Regions from separate parts of the Homo sapiens genome. Here all the other regions are reported to be linked to region 1. The links are microRNA targets in miRTarBase. Many come from high-throughput screens and were not tested one by one. Region 1 holds a microRNA gene; each other region holds the end of a gene's coding sequence.
What was found. The annotated mature microRNA hsa-miR-210-5p reads AGCCCCUGCCCACCGCACACUG and lies in region 1 at 4,538-4,559, shown strand. An mRNA with a match to its seed (bases 2 to 7 or 8) in the 3' UTR can be bound and repressed. Matches are read on the target gene's strand: a 7mer-m8 pairs with bases 2 to 8, a 7mer-A1 pairs with bases 2 to 7 and ends in A, and an 8mer does both.

Region 2: miRTarBase lists LARP1 as a target of hsa-miR-210-5p. Seed matches in the 3' UTR shown: 7mer-m8 at 3,206-3,212 and 7mer-A1 at 3,026-3,032.
Region 3: miRTarBase lists APBB3 as a target of hsa-miR-210-5p. The part of its 3' UTR that is shown has no 7-base or 8-base seed match.

Annotation. Positions count from the first base shown.
Region 1 is chr11:565,425-572,708 of GRCh38, reverse strand. It overlaps MIR210 (microRNA 210), which reads left to right and starts at 4,511; the gene lies at 4,511-4,620. LOC124902805 (translation initiation factor IF-2-like) reads right to left here and starts at 1,115. Exons shown (of 4, transcript XM_047428004.1): 1 at 1,065-1,115. The coding sequence starts at 1,115. MIR210HG (MIR210 host gene) reads left to right here and starts at 4,252. Exons shown (of 2, transcript NR_038262.1): 1 at 4,252-4,357; 2 at 4,856-7,052. RefSeq lists enhancers at 2,570-3,320, 5,906-6,460, 6,461-7,015.
Region 2 is chr5:154,812,598-154,819,881 of GRCh38, reverse strand. LARP1 (La ribonucleoprotein 1, translational regulator) reads right to left here. Exons shown (of 19, transcript NM_033551.3): 19 at 2,277-5,995. The coding sequence ends at 5,786. It overlaps FAXDC2 (fatty acid hydroxylase domain containing 2), which reads left to right. Exons shown (of 9, transcript NM_032385.5): 9 at 1-1,390. Among named protein-coding and RNA genes, the nearest start is that of MIR378H, 13 kb to the left of the region's middle.
Region 3 is chr5:140,551,990-140,558,989 of GRCh38, reverse strand. APBB3 (amyloid beta precursor protein binding family B member 3) reads left to right here. Exons shown (of 13, transcript NM_133173.3): 13 at 169-722. The coding sequence ends at 405. SRA1 (steroid receptor RNA activator 1) reads left to right here and starts at 1,517. Exons shown (of 5, transcript NM_001035235.4): 1 at 1,517-1,562; 2 at 1,718-1,843; 3 at 6,806-7,000. The coding sequence starts at 1,538. RefSeq lists enhancers at 1,088-1,147, 1,238-1,597, 1,463-2,284 and a silencer at 2,808-2,957.

The DNA of each region.
Region 1 (7,284 bases):
GGGAGGCTGAGGCAGGAGAATGGCGTGAACCTGGGAGGCAGATGCTGCAGTGAGCCAAGATCGCGCCACTGCACTCCAGCCTGGGCAACAGAGTGAGACTCTGTCTCAAAAATAAATAAATGAATAAATAAACGCCAGGTGCGGTGGCTCACGCCTGTAATCCCAGCACTTTGGGAGGCCGAGGCGGGCGGATCACGAGGTCAGGAGATCGAGACCATCTTGGCTAACTGTCTCTACTAAAAAAAAAAAATACAAAAAATTAGCCGGGCGAGGTGGCGGGCGCCTGTAGTCCCAGCTACTCGGGAGGCTGAGGCAGGAGAATGGCGTGAACCCCCAGGGGGCGGAGCCTGCAGTGCCGAGATCACGCCACTGCACTCCAACCTGGGCGACAGCGAGACTCCGTCTCAAAAAAATAAAAAATAAATAAACACAGACATCCACATGGAGACATGAAGGACGTCCTCAGTGAGCATAATCCTTGGTCAGTGCACAACCAACCCAGGTATGTCAGACAGCACTCAGGCTCAGGTGTGAGAAGTATCTCCAGGCAGCTGCCCAGAGCCAAACTAGGCCCAAACTGTGCATAGGTGGTACTTGAGAGCATGAGAGCAGGGGCACATACCAATACCTCCTGACTCCCACCCCCACCGCTACCCACACACCTGACATAAAATGACTCCTTACCTGCTCGCACGTGGATAGATGCCTCACACACCAGCAGGCAGACACCTCCTGTATACAACCCCCTCATCAGTACTGTCACCTCCCCCGTACACTGACGGGTCACCCCCCAACCCCCATCACCTGCTAGTGTCAGTGTGCACACATGTGCATCCTGCCCACACAGCCTCACACAGACCTGTACTCTGAGGCTCCGGCCAGATTCCTGGTCGACACTGCCGTGTGCTGCCCCTGCCCCTTGCAGACGCAAGCATGGTGTGCATGCTCCTGGTGTGCACGGGAGGATGGAGCTGGGCTGGGAGCTCCCTTGCTTCTGTCCCGCCAGGCCAGCTTATCCCGGAGGGCCTAGCCCAGCCCCTTCCCACCCCTGCCCCCCACCCCACCATCAGGTCCGTGTGCACATACAGGGCTTGGTGGGCAATGAGCCCAGTCATCGCCCCCTGCTGAGACCCATCCCACTCCCAGCAGCAGGGAGCCCCAGAGCCAGGTGGATGCCTGGGGGAGGCAGGGGCAGGGGTGGCTGGAGGAGGTGGGTGGGGAGAGAACAAAGGAGTCAAAACTCTCAGAGCTGGGGGAGGGAACAGGCAGGGCTGCATTCTCTACCTAGGGAAGGCAGGTGTCTGTGTGTCCCAGGGCTGTCATATCAAACGGCCACAAACCAGAGCCCTTAGACAACAGAAAGGCATTCTCTCAGTCTGGAAGCCAGCAGTCAGAGATCCAGGCTGGCAGGGCCACCCTCCTTGTTGAGGATCTGGGGAGGTCCTTCTTCTCCCAGCTTCATCTCCAGGCGTTCCTTGGCTATGGCTTCCTATGGCCTCCCTCTGTGTCTGTGTCTCTTTTCTCTTTCTCTCCTTTTTTTTTGAGACAGAGTTTTGCTCTGTCGCCCAGACTGGAGTGCAGTGGTGCAATCTCTGCTCACTGCAGGCTCCGCCCACCGGGTTCACGCCATTCTCCTGCCTCAGCCTCCCGAGCAGCTGGGACTACAGGCGCCCGCCACCTCGCCCGGCTAATTTTTTGTATTTTTAGTAGAGACAGGGTTTCGCTGTGTTAGCCAGGATGGTCTCGATCTCCTGACCTCGTGATCCGCCTGCCTCGGCCTCCCAAAGTGCTGGGATTACAGGCGTGAGCCACCGCGCCCAGCCTTTTTTTTTTTTTTTTTTTTGTGACGGAGTCTTGCTCTGTTGCCCAGGCTGGAGTGCAATGGCGCGATCTCGGCTCACCTCAACCTCCACCTCCCAGGTTCAAGTGATTCTCCTGTCTCAGCCTCCCGAGTAGCTGGGATTACGGGCATGCATCACCACGCCCGGCTAATTTTGTATTTTTAGTAGAGACGGGGTTTCTCCATGTTGATCAGGCTGGTCTCGAACTCCTGATCTCAGGTGATCCACCCTCCTCGGCCTCCCAAAGTGCTGGGATTACAGGCATGAGCCACCGCGCCCGGCCTTCTCTCTTTTTTTGTGTTTTTTGTTTGTCTGTTTGAGACAGAGTCGTACTCTGTTGCCCATGCTGGAGTGCAGTGGCGTGATCTCAGCTCACTGCCAACCTCCCAGGTTCAAGCGATTCTCCTGCCTCAGCCTCCCAAGTAGCTGGGATTACAAGCTCACACTACCATGCCCGGCTGATTTTTTTGTATTTTTAGTAGAGATGGGGTTTCACTATGTTGGCCAGGCTGGCCTCAAACTCCTGGCCTCAGGTGATCTGCCCACCTCGGCCTCCCAGAGTGCTGGGATTACAGGCTTGAGCCACCACACCCGGCCTGTTTTCCCTGTCTTTTATAAGGACACTGATCATTGGATTTAGGGCCCACCCAGAAAGTCCAGGATGATCTCGTTTCAAGATGTTTCCCTTAATGACATCTGCAAAGATGCTTTCTCCCGATGAGGGCACATTTAGGAAGCCTGGGTATTAGGATGTGGATATATCTTCTTTTTGGCGGAGGGACCATCCCACTCACTACAGATGCTGAGAAAAGGTGCCTGTGAAATTGGCAGGACTGGGGGCAGAAGTGGGTTCACGTCAGCAGGGCACGACAGGAACACAGAGCTGCCCTGTCCTCTTGCCCCTTCTTGTCCCCTAGTCTGACTGCCCTAGGAGCCTCTGCCCTGCCATGAAGACGTGGGCCTTCTCAGGGACCCCACTGACTCTTAGAGGCTCCTTCACGACCCACAGGATCGAGGTCTTGCTGACCCCTGACCCCCAATAGAACCGAGTGGCTCCGTGATCCTCTGGGCACCTTCCCCATCCACAGGCAGCCACAGGTGCAAGGAGCCACTCGGTTCTATCGGGGGCCAAGGGTCAAGGGGTCAGCAAGACCTCGGTCATGTCTTGCTGATCATGTCTGAGTCACCCCAGACTCTGCATCTGAATTTTTGTCCCCAGCCTTCAAGCCCCTGAGGACATGGGCTGGTTCGGAAGCTCCCTGGGGCCCCAGCACTTTGCCGCCGGGGCTGGGGCAGGGGGCAGGCTGCGGCCCAGGCCTGCGCGGATGCCGAGGCAGGGAGGTCATGGGGCCAGGGGAGGACAAAGAGCAGGGCGGTGAGTTTAGGGCCAGGGAGCTGAGGGGAGACGGCCCGGGGCCGAGGACCAGGGTGACAGTGCCAAGGGGGGCCGGCGGCCAAATCTCCTTTGGCTGCCACTTTGGAGCCCCACCCCGGAGTCCGATACTTCCACGTCTGAAGCTGGCCCTGCGAGTCCTAACGAAGGTCAAACCGTCAAGGCTCCTTTGATTTTACACGTTTTCAGCGCACAGACAGGATTCTCTCGCCTCGTCCCCTCAAAGACCGGCACAGGGCTGCGAAGACCCCTGAGCCCTTGAGGCACCCCCTCCAGGCTCCAGAGGCTTCCGCGGAGACAGAGCGCGCAGGAGGGACCCAGAGCCCCCAAGGGCGCCCCGTGGGGGTCGCCAGGCAAACCAGGCAGAGCCAGAGCCCCCTCTTCGCCAGCAGGACGGACCCGGGCGTCCTTTGGGGACCCCAAGCCGCCCGGGGGGTGGTGCGTGCGTCCCGAGGACGCCGTGTCCGGGCCCGCGCAGGCCCCACCCGGGTCACGGCCCGGGATACGTGCGCCGGGCGCCCAGCGGGTTGGGGGGGGCGGGCCCGCGGGACGCGGGTGCGGGGCACGGAGGCGGCCGGGTCGTACCACCGCGCCGCGGGAAGAGGGGCAGCTCCCGGCCGGCCCTGCCGCCCCACGCACACCCGCGGGCGGAGGACCCGTCGCCAGGCTGCGCCCCACGCCCAGCCCGGAAGCCCCGCGAGCCCGGGCCATACCACCGCGCGGCGGGAGGAGGACCACCTCGGGCCGTACCATCCGCCCGGCCGGGGGACGCGCCCTGGCCCCGCCGCGCCCTCGCAGCTGGCGCCCCGCAGGCCCCGCCCGGCAGGTGCCGCCCCTCCCCGGGCAGACGTGCAGAAAAGAACGCGCCGGCCTCGCCCGCGAAGGGCCGCGCGGCGGTGGGCGGGGCGTCGCGAACCCCCCTCGCGCCCACTGGCTGCGTTGCGGTAGGGCGGGCCCGGCTAGGCCGGCCATTGGCTGAGGGACCAGGTCATTTGCATACGGGGCTGGGCGTGGAGCCGCGGGGCCCGGGGCCGGTCGGGTCGGGCCGGGGGGCGAGAGGGTGCCAGCGGCCGCAGCTGAAGTTGGGCCGAGAGCCGGCGACGGCCCCGCGCCGGGGTCGCAGGTGACGCGCGAGGGATCCCAGGTTGGCGGGCGGGGCGCCCCTCAGAGGCCGCCCTCCCGCGGGGGCTGCGGGGGGTCGGGCTGGGCAGGCGCGGCGGGGCTCGGACGCCCAAGTTGGAGGGGACGGGGGTGGGGTCAATCCCTCCGCCCGCCCACCCGGCAGTGCCTCCAGGCGCAGGGCAGCCCCTGCCCACCGCACACTGCGCTGCCCCAGACCCACTGTGCGTGTGACAGCGGCTGATCTGTGCCTGGGCAGCGCGACCCTCCTGGCCCCGTGTCCGGGTCTGGCGGGCAGGCGAGCGGCCACACGGGGACGCGAGGGCAGCTGGATACCGTGGGGAGGGGGTGCCCTATGGACGGGGTGTGCCTGTCTGGCCAGCAGGGACGGCGGGTGGGGGTAAGCGAAATCATTCGGGGGCTTTGCTGCCCTCCGCTTGGTGGGGCTGAGGCTGGGCCAGATACCCTCTTGGAGGGAACTTTCTTTTCCTTGTGTGTCCAGGGTACCAGTGTGCGGAGTTCCTGTTGCCAAGCTGAAGGTGGCCCTGGGCAGGCACAGGTGTGGTCATATCTTCAGCCAACAGGACCATCCTCCGGAGGGCCACCTCTGGGGACTTCCTACGGGAAGAGAGTGACAGATTTGGTGCTTCTGTGTGTTTCTGCCGCTTCAGTGGGGCCGCTGCGGGAGACAGCGGGTGGATCCTCCAGCAGCCTGTCTGCTGAGCCTGCCTTCTCAAGTCTACTGTTAAAATCAGGACCGGGTCGTGTCCGAGCCTACAGGCCCTGTCTCCGCTCCCCAGGCCTGCAGGAGTTGAGGGCTGCACCTGCTCGCTGGAGAGGGAGAGGCAGATTTAGTGGACGCCTGGCATGGACTCGGACTGGCCTTTGGAAGCTCCCTGCCCTGACGGGGTTGCCTGTCACCACTGCGAAGTGAGGCTTGGCAGGACCTGCACCTGAGAAAGGCTGTGTGTGGTCTTGGGGTCCACACCTGCAGAGCTAACTTACTGCCAGACGGCGACTTACTGTGGGCCACCCTCAGTGAACCGGGGTGTCCTCAGCTGGCCCTACAGAGCACTTCTGTGCTGGGGATGAGTAGGAACTCTGGGCGAGGAGGGTCCCAGCGCCGCCCCTCGATACAGCCTGGCTCTGCCCTCTGCCCGTACTTACACCAGGTGGGATCCCTGCCCTGCATTGCCTGGGGATTGGCTGGGCTTGGGCCCGCCCTGCTGTGGAACTGGATGTTTTCAGGGAGCCCAGCCTTTCCTCATGTCAACACAGTTCACAATATAGTTTTCAAAGTACAGTTTAAAACTCAAAAGTAAACTTTTCAGCAACTCAAAGGTTTGCTGAGTGATCTGAAGCACTCTGGCCACTTTTTGGGGCCATGGGATTTGGTTCACCTGAAACAGCCAGTGAGAGGCCGGGTGTGGTGGCTCACACCCGTAATCCCAACACTTCAGGAGGCAGACGCGGGTGATCGCTCACTTGAGATCAGGAGTTCAAGACCAGCCTGGGCAACATGGTGAAACCTCGTCTCTACTAAAAATACAAAAATTAGCTAGGCATGGTGGTGGGCACCTGTAATCCCAGCTACTTGGAAGGCTGAGGCAAGAGAATCGCTTGAACCTGGGAGGTGGAGGTTGCAGCGAGACGAGATTACGCCGCTGCACTCCAGCCTGGGTGACGAGAGACTCTGCCTCAAAAAAATAAAAAAATGAAACAGCCAGTGAGGAGGAAGGCTCCCCGCCTTCCCCCCGCCGGAACATAGCCATAGCTGCTGCTGGGACACCCTCTTGGTGGGGAAGAAGGCTGGTTAGCTTCATCAGAGCCAGCAGCAGCAGACCAGGGACGGGCACCTAGGCAGTGGCCTCAGAGTGAACAGGAGTTCCTCAGAAACACACACAGGGACGGCGTGGCGCATGCTCTGCCAGCTCCATGCCTCCTTCCCATTGTGGGGCTGGGGTACGTAGGGCAGAGCTCATGACCTCCGGGAGGACATGGGGGTGGGCTCTGGATGGCACCTGGCATTGCCCCCTGCTGGCCTATGTGACGGTGTGGAGGGCTGGTCACAGAGGTACGACCATCCCTCCAGAATGTGGGTCGGGGCTGTGGATGGAGGAGTAGGCCCCTCATATCCCAGGCCTGCTGCCCAGGCACAACCCACTTGGCCTATGCATTCCAGGCTCCATCCCATGTGACTCTGGGCTTAGCCCCTTCTGGGGCCACAGGTCAGGCAGGTCCAGGCCCCAAGGACCTCCCAGTGACAGGCGACTGTGAGCTGGGCAGACAGGAGTGAAGTCAGGTGGGGGTTCTGGCTTGCTGACACCAGCGTTTGGAGCCTCCTGCTGCTGCCTGGCTTCCCTGCATTCCCTGTTCCCTGCCTCAGGCAAGAAATAACCAAGCCGAGTTGCCTCTGCACAGCAGTGAGCTCCTGGTGGCCCTGGCTTCTGGGGAGCCCTGTGGATGGCTTCCTTGCCCAAGTCCAGGCCTTCTTGTTCCCTTTGTGTGCTCCAGAGAAAGGGGGCAGCACCAGATCCAGATCCAGGGCCAACCAACAGAAAGCTGAGTCCATCCCAAACTCGCCCATTCTCAGAGCACAAAGACCCCATGATCTAGGGCAAACTTGTCCAACTGTTGGCCCATGGAACAGCTTTGAATGCAGCCCAACACAAATCTATAAATTTTCTTAAACATTGTGAGTTGTTTTTTGTTGTTATTTTGAGACAGAGTCTCGATCTGTCGCCCAGGCTGGAGTTAGTGGCCCAATCTCGGCTCACTGCAAGCTCCGCCTCCTGGGTTCACGCTCGTCTCCTGCCTCAGCCTCCCGAGTAGCTGGGACTACAGGCGCCCGCCAACACGCCTGGCTAATTTTGGTATTTTTAGTAGAGACGGGGTTTCACCACGTTAGCCAGGATGGTCTTGATCTCCTGA
Region 2 (7,284 bases), not on the chromosome of region 1:
ACTTTGCCCCTTCCTGCCCCAAAAGGCTTTCACATACCCGACTCAGGCCAGAGCCAAGACACCCTGGCAAATCATTATAGGTCTCAATTCATGACATACCAGATGCCAGTCGCCACTTCACCCAACACACACACAAACATACACACACCAAACACTCTGAGTGAGTGGTAAAGGCCCCGTTTTAACTCTGGCCCACCGCAAACAAAAGGTTTCCCTCTGTGGGGGAGAAAAAGAAATCCAGGAGCTCCTCCCTGGATTAAAACCAACGAGGTGCAGACCAAACTTTAACACCTTTAGCCTTATGTGGAAACCAAAAACCAACTGCTGGGAAACTGTGAAAAGCCCTTTTACCCACAAGGGGAGGGGTCAAAGTTGCTGCCCTTTGGGGACACCCGAGACCCCTAATTAGCCTATCTGAATGAGGACCAAAGGTTAGAGCCCTCTTTCTCCCCGAAGAAAGAGCCCGGAAAAACATGGCAGAGCAAAGAGCAAAATCCTTTCTCCCCCGAATGCTTTACCAGTTTCTCAGCAACATTTATTCAAGATGATTTTTACCAGGAACCTTATCAAAGGCAAAACCACAGCTGCTTGGGTTGAAGTCCCCATCCTGGCCTCCTCTCAGCCGCCAGACATGGCCAGGAACCCTGTGGTTCCCAAGAACAATTTAAAGATCACTCTTTGATTTGAAAGACCACCATTATCATTTTACTAAATTCTTATATATACTTGTGCCTTTTCCAACTTTCAGTTCTCTTAAGAAAAACATCCACTGTAGCTTTATAAAATACCTTAGTATCAGCTAGGTCCAAGTCTCCAGGCAGGACTATCAAAATGGACTCCTTCTTCCTATCAGCTCTAGAACCCCAGAGGACTTGCCCAGTAGGCCAGCTGAGCACTTACCAGGCAGCATCTCCCTGGCCTTCCACAGTCTCGCCTGTCTGTCTCTGGCCTTGGTGGACCTGGCTCCCTCCCTAGGAGGCTTTTGCCCTCAGCTTGAATACAGTTCCTGGTGCATCAAAGCTGTAAGTTCTCAGCTGCTGGCCTGCACTCATCACCTCTTCCTACAAATAAACATTTGGAAAAAAGTCCATCTTCAATATGCTTAAAGAGAAGGGTAGGAGATAAGGAGAAAGAACAGATACGGTTTTTTTCCCCTTTAAGGCCTTTAGATTTTGAGGTACTGTAAGGGGCCTAGAAGGACAAAAGGCTTTCATTCCCTCTTCCTTTTGGCAGGCAGGTTATCAGTCCTTGGCAGAAGGGCCCAGCCCTATCCTTTTCTGTATCAAACAAAATCCTTGAGGTTGGTATACAAGTTAAGGCTGAAAAAAGGCCTTAAATTCCCAGTAAAGAATGTGAAAGCAAGCATGTAAAATAAACTGGTCTTCATGAATTCCAGTGGATAATTTTTTTTTGAAGGGAGGTGTCTACTACAAGACTTCTAATACTTCAGACATAGCATTTGGAAGCTCAGGCTGTGAAATTAAGCTGCTGTGAGCATTCCTAACGATAATTTGTGAAAGTAAGTTTCAATTAATTCATCTTTCTGTTTTCAAAGTACCAATCCGTCTGCATCAGCCCTGGACACTATCTCCTAAACTTTCCTTTGGCCTGTGGAGGTCACTGGTGGTACTGAAGTACCTGCCAACCTCAAGAACAGTGAAAAAGCACTCTCTGGAAAAACCATTTACCCAAGCCAGGTATGGGAGACAGTTGTCAGATGAACACGTAAATAAGGCCATGCCCCATTTTTAGTTTTGTAATTTATACGGGGAATGGGGGACTCTTTGTTCCATCCCTCCCCAGCATCACATCTCAGGGTTCGGGGCTGACCAGGATTCCGTAAGTCCACATGGTGCTGGATCATTCCTCCTTCACCCCCCTGTGGAAAAGTCTGTTCATAGAGGGGTTGTGGCAACCCTCCATAAGAAGCCTCATCGTTTTTCTTCTTGGCTGTCTCATAACACAATGCAGGCCACAGCCAGGGGATGGAAAACCTGGAAGCTGACAAGTGCGCTGAAATCCTGGCATTATGCTGGACTGCTGTTTTGTGGCACTGGCTATGACTGTCACGTCTCACTTAAGACACAGGGTGGACATGAACTCAAGGCTTGTAGAAGCCCCTGCCTTAGGCAGACTCCTCGAAGCCCAATGGCAGAACCCCTGCCGAGGTTTCATGTGCACATTGAGTGCAGGGTTCCTCCGGATCTGGGGGAACTCTACCAGAAACCCATCCTTCACACCCAATAGCAGTAACCTAGATGGAAGACCAGCCAGTATTTTGCCTTTTCAAGTGTTTATTTTTATACATTTTTTTGTATTAAAAAGAAAAGCATAATTACCACAAATTACAAAGGACTAAAGCAGGACTAGAATAATGAATGAATCACTTCAGCCTGGAAAGCAGATACTCTCAATAATATTAATGTTATAATACAAGCTCATTCAAGTATTTTACATTTTTTTGTCCTTTTAAATATGATATCCTAGCACATAGTAAAGATAATGTACTACGAGCGTAAGGTGGAACCTTCTCCGCAAAGCCAGATGACAAGTTTTCCTCTCCAGTGAGAAATGGGCTCCAAGTTCTTATCTTCTCTGCCATCAGCATGGCTGAAGGGGGAGAGGGTGGGTGTTAGGGAAAATCCAGGGACCCTTCCACACAGGAGGTACTCTGGGGTTCCATTCAGGAGGGTGCCAGATAATTCAGATCACTCTACCCAGGCTTTTTGGCAAAAAACAACCCTCACCCTCCGTAACTAGTCATCTTCCTTGTCCCTCCTCCTCACTTCCCTTCCAGGGCCTTCTAAGCAGCTTACTTTCTTTTGTAAAATCAATCACCAGGAAAGGGGAAAAAAAAAAAAAAAGAGCTACAATGGAACAAAACAAAAACATTTAACAACTTTGACACAGGGGCTCAGCACCTCTATCTGAGCCCCAGGGGTCCAGGCTGGGGCACGGCTGGATGGCCCTTCTCTACTGGTAGTGCCTTTGCTCCCAAGTGCAGGAAGAGGGCTAAAGAGAAACCTGCCCCTTAACAGGGCTGAGGCACACAGACCTGCTGATGTCTGATGCCCAGAGGTTATGTTGGCATGGACCAACCTTGGAAGGGATAGGATGAACAGAGGGATCTGGGCAGGCTGTTGCTTTATCTCAGGTCTTGGATCCCCATGGGACGATGGTAGGTGTGAAGTGGTTAGCCCTGATGGCCCCTGCCACTTCTGGCATGCTTGTCACAGATACATCGGTCCTAAATTCAAGTGTCTTCAGAAAGTGAAGATGTAAACTACTCTTTGCAACATTAACTCCTAACATGTTACCAAAAACAAAAACAAAAACAAAAACAAAAAAAAAGGAAAGAAAAGAAAAAGCTCCCCTACCAACCACCAGCCGATGTTGAGATGAAGTCCTCACCTCCCTGCCCCAAAGGGGCTTCCTTTCAGGGATGTCTGTGAAGAAGATGGCAGCCCCCTGGCCTGGGAGTAAACTCTAGGTAATAACAGCCTTTCCCCATACCCTAAGGCTTCCTTGTGCCCCAAACCAGCAGAGGAAAAACACTGAGGTTTCTGTGGTGCTGGATACAGTACAGGGCTGCGTGACCTGAAGGAAAGAAAGGAAAGGAGAAGGGGGTCCAGGAATCCAGTGTCCGGTACAATGTGGGGCAGGCACCAGACTGGGCAGGGAAAGGCCTCGGATACCACCATCATAGCAGAGACCAGACGCTCATCCTTGGTTTGAGACATGAAGTCACAGGAACTGAGATGGGCTTCCCACATACCAACCACTGGGAGGGCAAAGGTGGGGAAGGGCACAGGCTAAAAATTAACAAGGTGCCCAAGGTAAAGGGCAAGCCCTTGTCAGCCTGGGATACTGTCTCCTACTCCCAACCTTTGGGCCCAACAGAGGAACCAGTTGAAAAGGAGGGCCAAAGACATTGCAGTAAGTAAGCAACAGGACAATGAACTCCATGTTGCCCAGATCCCACTGAGAGTGAACGTGCAGTCATGCCCATAACCGACACACATCCCAGTCCATGTGGGTCAGTCCTTCATCACCCTCCCTGCCTTCTGACAACAGCAGACTCCAGCCATTCCATTATCATTCACAGCCCAACCCAAGCAGTCAGTGGCTGAAGAAAGAGAATCAGGTATACTCTATGTCCACATATACCTTCCTGCCACAGGGCTTCACCAACTGGCAGGATTCCCCCCAGCCCCCAACTCCTCCTCATCCCTTGTTCCCAGGCGGGTCAATTGGAGAGTGAGCAGAGATAGATGGCTTGCAGAAGGGTATGCAAGATGGGGAGACTCCACCAGACCTTAGGGAGAGAATGGCATCTTTCTCCACCTTTTAAGAGAGACAGAGCCTCCCTGAGGTCTCAAAGATTTTTCAGGGCAACACAAGAAACGTTTCCAAGCCTCAGCTGCAGGTGTTCACCTTTCCACTCTGGGGTGTGAGGAGATGGTAAGCTGAGGACAAGTGTGTTCCAGATGCAGGCCAACTCTGTTCTCCAACAGTTTGAACCAACTTGGCCTTGGGGTTCCAAGGGTAGGATGAAGGGTGTCACGGCAGGACGGGGCCTGGCGTGAGGCAACAGCAAGCAGAGCGAGGACACAACAGTGGCAGCAGTGTACAGACACAGGACGTCAGCTTCAAACGATGCAACAGCAGGGATATCTTGGGCACGGCTCTGATTCGAGCCACTCCCAACTCTCTTGCCTCCAGGATGGAGGCACTGTACATGCAACAGTCCAGAGAAAGATTCTAGCCAGTCCAAGCCCAGGCACATCCAGAGAAGGTGGGAGCTCTTCGGGTTGACTCCACCGAGGAAAACAGGCATTTGGGTATTTCAGATTCCCGCTCCACAATAAGGCAACTTTTAAAAAAATATTATTTCCAAAAACAAAACAAAAATTCCAAGGGGAGGGGAAAGACATTACTTTCTGTGGATTAGGTGGGGGTTTTCTGATTTTTTTTTTTTTTTTGGTCTTTTATGGTCGATTTTGTCTTTTTTCTTCTTTTTTCCCCATTTTTTCAAGGATGGAAAGGTCAGAGAAAAATAAAATAAAACATCTTTCAATAGTCTTTCCTGGTAAAAGCAGCGTCTCTCTGGGCTGGGGAGTAAAGGGTGTGGGGCAAGGGGAGTGGGGAGAGGCTGAAACCTTCCCCCAAACCCCAGTTTTAGATCCTTTGGTTTCCTTCTCCCAGAAGATGGCAGAAGGGCATGGTGGGAACAGCAGGGAGAAAATATGGTGATGACAAACCCCAGATGATCAAGGGGCTGATGCTCCTGGGGCCCAGAGGTACCACCAGAGCCTTCTATGAGACAGTGCTGGGCAATGGGGGGGCCCGCAGGGCCTTCTTGTGGGCTGCATAGTTGGCTTGAGGGGGAGCAGGAGGTTAGGGGTGGGGACCAGGGTTGCAGCCTACTAGCCTCGGGCAGGGCTGCAGAGTGATTTTGGTAATCCAGATGAACTATCAATAATTTAAAACTTGATATATATATATGTATATATATATAAAAATCTCCCCCCTTTCCCTCCCCCCTTAGAAGAAGCTAGGATGTCAAGAGTCATGGAGAGAGGAGGGGGAAGGGGATGTAGAGGCTCCTGCCCAGGGGTACCTCTGATAGCCCAAATGGTGTATACATTGCTACTCAGCACAAAGGCCTGTCCTAGTAACTCCAGGCCTGTCCCTTCATTGTCCCCTTTCCTGGGACTGGGCACCCCCATGGACTCTTACCCACCCTACCCCTTTCCCCCCTCAAGCCCCAGGGCTAAGGAGCTTTTCACTTTCCCAAAGTCTGTGTGTTCGAGTGCTGGCTTGTCCATTTGGCATCTTCCCGGACAGGCTGGCCGGTGGGTGGTGTAGGGGGTTGGCTGATCATGGCAGCAGGCCTGCTGGAAGACTGGGAGGGGCACCGCTTCCTGCCCTCACCGCCGCCACCTCCTGCTACCACTGAGTGTCGCTTGTGGTTGCCCTCCTCACCCATGGGGGGCTGCAACAGAGGAAGGAGTCACAGGTGATCAGAAGCACTATCTACGCCCTCTTCCTTGCCAGGCCCGTCTAGACACTTCCTACTTTCTACCTCCAAATATAGAAAATGAATGGGTTTAACCTTAAAAATAAATTATAAGTTATTAAGCGTTTCTTCATGCCAAGCCTTGTGCTGTTTTATGCACACTCTCTCATGGGGTCAGCATCACCCTTTGATGTGGACCCATGGACATCTGATTTTATAGATGAGGAAACTGAAGCACAAAAAAGTAACTTCCCCAGGGTCTCATAGCTGGTAACCGATAAAGACAAAATTTAGGTCTACCTGCCCCAAAAGGCCAGGCTTTTATCCAACCTCATTTCTGCTTCCCTTCCAAGAAGGGATCTCTTGCTCAGAAATGTGGAATGTGGCATGCAGTATGCTGCGACGTCTCAGCTCAGAAGGCCCAGATCCTTCTGGGGATCACCTCATTCTCTTCAAGGTCCAGAGGATCCTGAACTAAGACTCAGACCATGCTCCAGACTGGCCTTACCACTAACAAAGGTCTTATAACCCCGAAGACAGACGTTTCCTTCCCATTTTGGGAACCAAAACTGAGTCCTTGTTCCACCCTAATAGGTCTACTTATCACAAAGGTTCTCTGTGACTTGTACCCTGCTCCCCTCCCTTCTCCTCCTCAAGGGTGGAAATGCTTAAGAATAAAAGAAAACAGATTTGTGTTTATATTGAGAGACCTGAGTGGCTCTGCCATTATGTCACTGGATGGCCACGAACCTCAGTTAACCTAATAAGTCCTGTCTGCGTCACCACATAAGGGTTAAATAAGGTCAATGTAAAGTACCTGGCACATAATAAACACTTAATAAATGGCAGTTTTAAAATAATAAATGTGATGATTTGGCTGTGTCTCCACCCAAATCTCGATCTTGAATTGTAGTTCCCATAATCCCCACATGTCGCGGGAGGGACCAGGTGGAGATAATTGCATCATGGGGGCAGTTTCCCCCATCTTGTTCTCGTGATAGTGAGTGAGTTCTCACAAGATCTGACGGTCTTATAAGGGGCTTTTGGGCCGGGCGCGGTGGCTCATGCCTGTACTCCCAGCACTTTGGGAGGCCAAGCAGGTGGATCACAAGGTCAGGAGTTTGAGACCTGCCTGGCCAACATGGTGAAACCCCATCTCTACTAAAAATACAAAAATTAGCCAGGCGTGGTGGTGCGCACCTATAATCTCAGCTACTCAGGAGGCTAATGCAGGAGAATCACTTAAACCCGGGAGGCGGAGGTTG
Region 3 (7,000 bases), not on the chromosome of region 1:
TATGATTTTGTTATTGAGCTACCTGGGAATGCTCTAGAAACTCCACATGTGGCTGACTACCAACCTTGTTATCAGACAGAAGCTTTGGCCAGTTCCCTGTCCTGCAGAAGCTTTCAGGGAGTCTAGAGGCAGAAAGTAGCTGGATCCTCACATTCCCCTTCTCCCTAGGTTCAGTACCAGAAGTGTCTTGTGGCCTCTGCAGCTCGAGGCAAGGCCTGGGGTGCCCAGGCCCGTGCCCGCCTGCGGCTCAAGCGGACCAGCTCCATGGATTCCCCAGGAGGTCCCCTGCCCCTCCCCCTGCTCAAAGGAGGGGTTGGCGGTGCAGGGGCAACCCCTCGAAAGCGGGGTGTCTTCTCTTTTCTTGATGCCTTCCGGCTGAAACCCTCTCTGCTCCATATGCCCTAAACTTATCTGGGAAGGCTGGGGAAGTAGGCTCTGGGTCCATGCCTAACTCTGTACCGTTTTATTCCTCAAGGCCTATAGCCTGTCACTCCTTGAAGCCTTCTCTGCCTGTCCCTCCGATCCTTGTCCACCGTCTATTTATTGCCCAATTTATTGTTTATACGGATGACTGGGAGGCACTGCACCACAACGTAGGACCCTGGCTCCCCTTTCCTTGGGTCCTTGTGTTCCTTGCCCCTGTCCAACCCTGGACAGTTGGCTCTACCTCAGTAACACTTTATAGCAAAATCAGTGCAAATAAAAATCCCTCAGTGACCTCACTGGATGTGAGTATATTGGGCCTGGGACAGGGCTGGGGGCTAACACCCTGTGTGAGATGAGTGTCTTTGTGTCTGTGCTTGATGTTGGTGGCTCTCTGTAGTCACATGACAGCATGGGTGTGATGGAGATCTGACTTCATTCAACAAACATATTTTCTAAGGAGTTCCCTGTGCCAGGCACTAAGCTGGGCACTGGGAATGTAATAAAATAGTCAAGGTCCCACCTTCTAAGACTGTCCGACAGGGAAACGAACAAGAGTCAAATAAGGCAGAAGATGTGATGTAATACACCTACGAAATCTCAGAGGGTTGTAGGGTCGTGGGAGCTCAAGTGAGACACTTAACCTGGCCTGAGACATTCCAGAAGGCCTCCTGAAGAACTGACATCTGAACTGAGAACTGAAGGAAGATGAGTACTAGTGAGGCTACCGGACGTGAATGTGGAGATTGTGCAGGGCAATGCAAGAGGAGGCTGTAGAAGTCAACCTGGCTAGATCACAGCGGGGTGTATGTGGGGCAGGAGCTTCTTTGTTTGAATTTGCTCCTGAGAGGATGAGGCCTCCTAGAGCACTGGCTCCTGGACAGCAACCTCCTTTGGTGCCTTGTGACCAGGGCCCTGATGGTTCATTAGATGGAGCCTTCGAGTCTTAGGGAGTTGCCGCAGGGTCCCCACAGCGGCTCCCGACGGTTGTGAACCAGCATCCATCCTCCACGGATTCCGGCAACCCGCCTGGCCCTGGACGTGTCTCAACTGGCCCGCGTGAGGGGCCGCCCCGGAAATGACGCGCTGCCCCGCTGGCCAAGCGGAAGTGGAGATGGCGGAGCTGTACGTGAAGCCGGGTGAGCGCAGCCGGCGGGCTAGGGCACTAGGTTGTCGCCCCGGCCTAGGCTGGGGGCGGTTGCGGCGCTTAGTATGGACCCTCTGTCTCCCCCAGCCCCAGTATAAGCTAACAGTGGAGTTCCGGGCTCGCTTCACACATCCCTCGCCTCCGCAGGCAACAAGGAACGCGGCTGGAACGACCCGCCGCAGTTCTCATACGGGCTGCAGACCCAGGCCGGCGGACCCAGGCGCTCGCTGCTTACCAAGAGGGTCGCCGCACCCCAGGATGGATCCCCCAGAGGTGCGTGGGGCCCCTGTGCTCGGAGACAGACGGAGAATGGGGGGGGGGGGGTGTAAGGCATAAGCCTGTTTGGAAGGCTTTTTTCTCTCCCCGAGGGCTCCTTAAGGAGAGAAGTTTTGGGGCTCCAGTAAGGGTCTCAGAGCAGGTGCTTTTCCGAGCCCCTTCTCTGCTGCTCAGGTTAATAAATGGTGTATTGATTTAAAAAGACTATTTTTTCATCCTAGATGATCTTATCCAGACCTGTGGCTTTTAATATAGTTTTAATCCTGAAGTTATTTTTCTTTGTTAACCTATACCTCTTGCCAGAACCGTATAGTGGCATATTCATTTGTCCATTCTGTCTTCACTTAGGTATATGATAATCGTCAGACTTCACAGTTTTTCATTCATTTAATCACTGTTATTTACTGAGCACTTCTATAAGTCAGGCACTGTTTGAGGGCGAACTAGACAGCAGTGAGAAAAAAAAAAAAAAGATCTCTGCTTTCAGGAAGTCCACGTTGCAGCACTGGAGATGGGCTGAAAGATGAAATAGTGGTGAGGGTGCTACAGAAAATAAGCGGTGATGTAATATGACTGGGTAACGAGGTGTCTGAGGGGCTGACATTTAAGCCACACAAAGATCATGTACAAAAGCATTCCAAGCAAAAGAAACAGCTGCAAAAGGAATAAGTTTGGCCAATTCAGAGACTGATGAAATACAGAGTGGCTGGCTACAGCATAGTGGGCTTTGTAAAGCAGGATGAGGAATTTGTATTTTAATCTACATAAAGTTAGAAGCCATTGAAAAGTTTAAAGTAGAGGAGAGCCACCTTTCCCCCCGAGAATTTTCCAAGCCATTAAATGGGCTGTGCCGTGGCCCCCATAAAGGGGCTCAGGTTTGGTTCTTTCAGTGGCCCTCCATTCTCCACACCCTTTTTGCTGTAGAAGAATGATACAAGGCTTGGTTTCTTAAACTCAGCAGTATTGATAGGTTGTGGCCAGATAATTCTTTGTGAGGGACTTTCCTGTGTCTTATGTTAATCAGCAACTCTGACTTCTACCCAAAAGATGTCAGTAGCATCCACCCAGTTGTGATAGCCAAAAGTGTTTCCAGACATTTGCCCTGTGGGCACTATCTTCCTAGCTTGAGAACCAGGGACTGATTTACATTTTGGAAAGATCACTGTGTCTGCTGTGTGAAAACAAGATTTTAGGGAAGTGGAAAGACAAATTACAGCTATTATGGTAATATAGGCAAGATTTAATGATTTGCATAAGGGTGGGAGTCAGGGTGGTAGGAGTTGGATGGATATGAGATGGAGAAGGTCAGTAGGAATGAGTAGATTAGGAAGAATCCATATAACTGAATTTTTTTGCTTGATATAGGAAGACTGGGGATGGTGGTTTTGGGGAGGGGGAGTTTTTTTGGGGGGCCATGTGAAGTTTAGGCTGTTACTTTTGGGGAATGTTCTAGGCCAGAATTAGAGAAATAAGTCACCATTACAAGGATGGTATTTGATGTCATGGGCTTGAATATGGCCAGGGACAGAGCCGTAGGGCACTCTAGCATTTCAAGGTTGAGAAGGAATCAGCAAAGGAGATTGGGAAATGGCCAAAGAAGAAAAAAGGAGAGGCCAGGCGCAGTGAGTCACGGCTGTAATCCCAGCACATGGGGAGGCCAAGGTGGGCAGATCACCTGAGATCAGAAGTTCAAGACCAGCCTGGCCAACATGGCGAAACGCTGTCTCTACTAAAAATACAAAAATTAGCTGGGCCTGTAATACCAGCTACTTGGGAGGGTGAGACAGGAGAATCGCTTGAACCTGGGAGGCGGAGGTTGCAGTGAGCCGACATCGCACCACTGCACTCCAGCCTGGGCGACAGAGTGATATTCTGTGACAAAACCAAAATAAAAAAAGAAAATAGGAGAGCGTAAAGACATGAATCAATAGTAATGAATGCTGCTGAGACATCAAGATAGAGACAAGGGGCCAGGCGCAGTGGCTCACGCCTGTAATTCCAGCACTTTGGAGGCCAAGGCGGGTGGATCACGAGGTCAGGAGTTCAAGACCAGCCTGGCCAACGTGGTAAAACCCTGTCTCTACTAAAAATACAAAAAATAGCCAGGTGTAGTGGCGGGCACCTGAAATCCCAGCTACTCGGGAGGCTGAGGCAGGAGAATCATTTGAACCTGGGAGGTGGAGCCTGCAGTGAGCCGAGATCGCACCATTGCACTCCAGCCTGGGACTCCATCTCAATAAAAAAAAAAAGAGCGACAAGGAACCAGTAGATTTGACAAACATAGCAGTCACTCGTGATCATAACAAGAGCAAGTCTCTGCAGTAGTGAGAACAGAAACAGCTGGAATGGGCTGAGGAGAGAATGTGAAAAGTAGAGAGAGTGACTATAAAGAGCTCACTCAAATGCTGCTGCAGAGATAAGAAATGGGACAGTATCTGAAAATGGAACATGAAGTAAGGGAGTGTTTTGATAGTAATATACTAGAGCATGTTTGTACACTAACGGGATGATTCAGTAGAGAGGGGGAGCTGATGATGCAAGAGAAGATAGTTACAGTAGGGAAGTCTAGAGAAGACAAGAGAGGCTAGGATGCAGAGTACAGCTGGTAAGATGGCTTTTGATAGGAGCAGGAACCTTTTCATCTATTACAAGAGGAAGAAAAGTGGCCACAGATGCAGGTGGGTTAGGAGGAATGGTGGTGGGAAGATGAGAGAGTTCTGTTTAATGACCTCTACTTTTCAATGAAACATTAGGCAGTGTCAGAAGAAGATAGCAAGGAAAGGAAGAGAAGTTCTGAAGAGTGGAAAAAATGAGCCAAAATGTCCAGGCAGTATTTGGTACCTTTTAAAATCTGTGGCCATGAATTTAAACTATCAGCATGGCTCTGTTTTCCCTCCCAAGTGCAAGCAAGTTGGGTTTAACCAGGAAAGTGGGACAATGGGAGGAGATAAAGGAGGTAAAAATATTTATAAGGGGGTGATGTTAATGTACATTGAAATCAAAGTAGCTGAGCTGGAAGGGGTAAGGGGGTGATCAGATTTTGGAGGTGATAGTGTGAACAAGGCAGGGGGATGACAGGCTGATGTAGGGTGGGAAAAAATGATCACTGGAGGTGAAGAGGTCAACTGAAACACCAAATTATTAGATGAATTAATCATCCTTGTGGATGTTGGTACCTAAAAGTAAACTTTTGACTTTTGTCTTCCAGTCTTCTTTCTGTTAGTGGTTCCCATTACTAAGTCAGAAACTACGAGTCACCTTGACTTCTCTCTTCCTCACTCTCAATCCACTCCTGTTGCTACTTCCTCCTAAGTAAATCTCAGACTACTCCATTCCCCTCGTCTACTCTTTTACCCTAGTCCATGCCAGCATTATCTCTTTCCTGAACTACTCAACCTCTCAACTGGTGTTCCTGCCACCACTGTTGACCTGTTTTCATCAGTTTTTCACAGAGCATACATGTTTAAAAATAAGTCTGGTCACATCACCCCTTGCTTTTACAAACCTGCAGTGGCTTCCCAGTACCATTGACTCAAGATCAAACTCTTCCAAAGCCCCACAGGGTCTGGACCCTCTGCTTACCTCTCTAATGATAGCTCATACTACTTTCTTCAGTGGTAATAATTTTTAGCCATACAGGCCTCATTACTGTCTCTTGAACAAATCAAAAGTTTTCCTGCTTCTTGGGCACTGCTCTAACCTCGACCTAGTACATGTTCCTTCAACTCTTCATAGCTGCATCTATCTCATCCGGTAGTTCTCAATTTAATAAAAACAGCTCATTTTGTACTTTTTGCTACATACTAGTCTAGCAGCTGTCTTTTTTTTTTTTTTTTAAGAGGGTCTTAGTATGCTGCTCAGGCTGCTCTCAAACTCCTGGGCTCAAGCGATCCTCCTGCCTCTGCCTCCCAGTGTGCTGGGATTAGAGGCATGTGTCACCACACTCAGCCTGTACCTGTATTCCTAATCTTCATTGCAACCTTGTGAAATAAGTGGCATTATATTCATCCCCATTTTACAGAAGAGGAACCTAAGCTCTAGTTGAAAGTAACTTGCTGAAAGTCACATAGCAAGTGAGCTCAGATAAACTTAAATGTACCTCAGAAGGCCTTCCTTGAACACTTAGTCTAGATAGGTTCTCCCATTTCTCTTTATTGCATAAACCATTTTATTTCTTGGTAGCATGTAACATAATTTAGTAATTTTGTGTTTTTTTCCCTGCCTCTAGAATTAAGCTCTCTGAGGTCAGGAACTTAATCTGTCTGGTTTACTTCCTCCTGAGTAGCCAGGACTATAGGTGTGTGCCACCACACTTGACTAACTTTTAAAATTTTTTTATAGAGATGAGGTCTCACTATATTGCGTAGGCTGGTTTTGAACTCCTGAGCTCAGGTGATCTTCCTACCTTGGCCTCTCAAAGTGTTAGTATTACAGGCATAAGCCACTGTGCCCAGGCCTGGTTTACTTTTCTTTTCTTTTTTTTTTTTTTTGAGACAGAGTTTCACTCTTGTTGCCCAGGCTGGAGTGCAATGGCACCATCTCAGCTCACCACAACCTCTGCCTCCCGGGTTCAAGCGATTCTCCTGCCTCAGCCTCCTGAGTAGCTGGGATTACAGGCATGTGCCACCATGCCCAGCTAATTTTTGTATTTTTAGTAGAGACAGGGTTTTGCCATGTTGGCCAGGCTGGTCTTGAACTCCTGACCTCAGGTGATCTGTCTGCCTCAGCCTCCCAAAGTGCTGGGATTACAGGTGTGAGCCATCACACCCGGCCACCTGGTTTACTTTTCTAATCTTTAGTGCCTAGCATATTGTCTGGCGTAGAGTGGGGACTTCATAAATGCATATTTTTGAATGAATAAGTTGTCTCAGAGAGTAGCCCTTCTTAGAAGGGGTGAATTTAGAGTTAAGCTTCTTACCCATTTAAGCCATGTTGCTTGATCCTGCTGTACCTTTTCAGTCCCCGCATCAGAGACTTCTCCTGGGCCTCCCCCAATGGGGCCTCCACCTCCTTCAAGTAAGGCTCCCAGGTCCCCACCTGTGGGGAGTGGTCCTGCCTCTGGCGTGGAGCCCACAAGTTTCCCAGTCGAGTCTGAGGCTGTGATGGAGGATGTGCTGAGACCTTTGGAACAGGCATTGGAAGACTGCCGTGGCC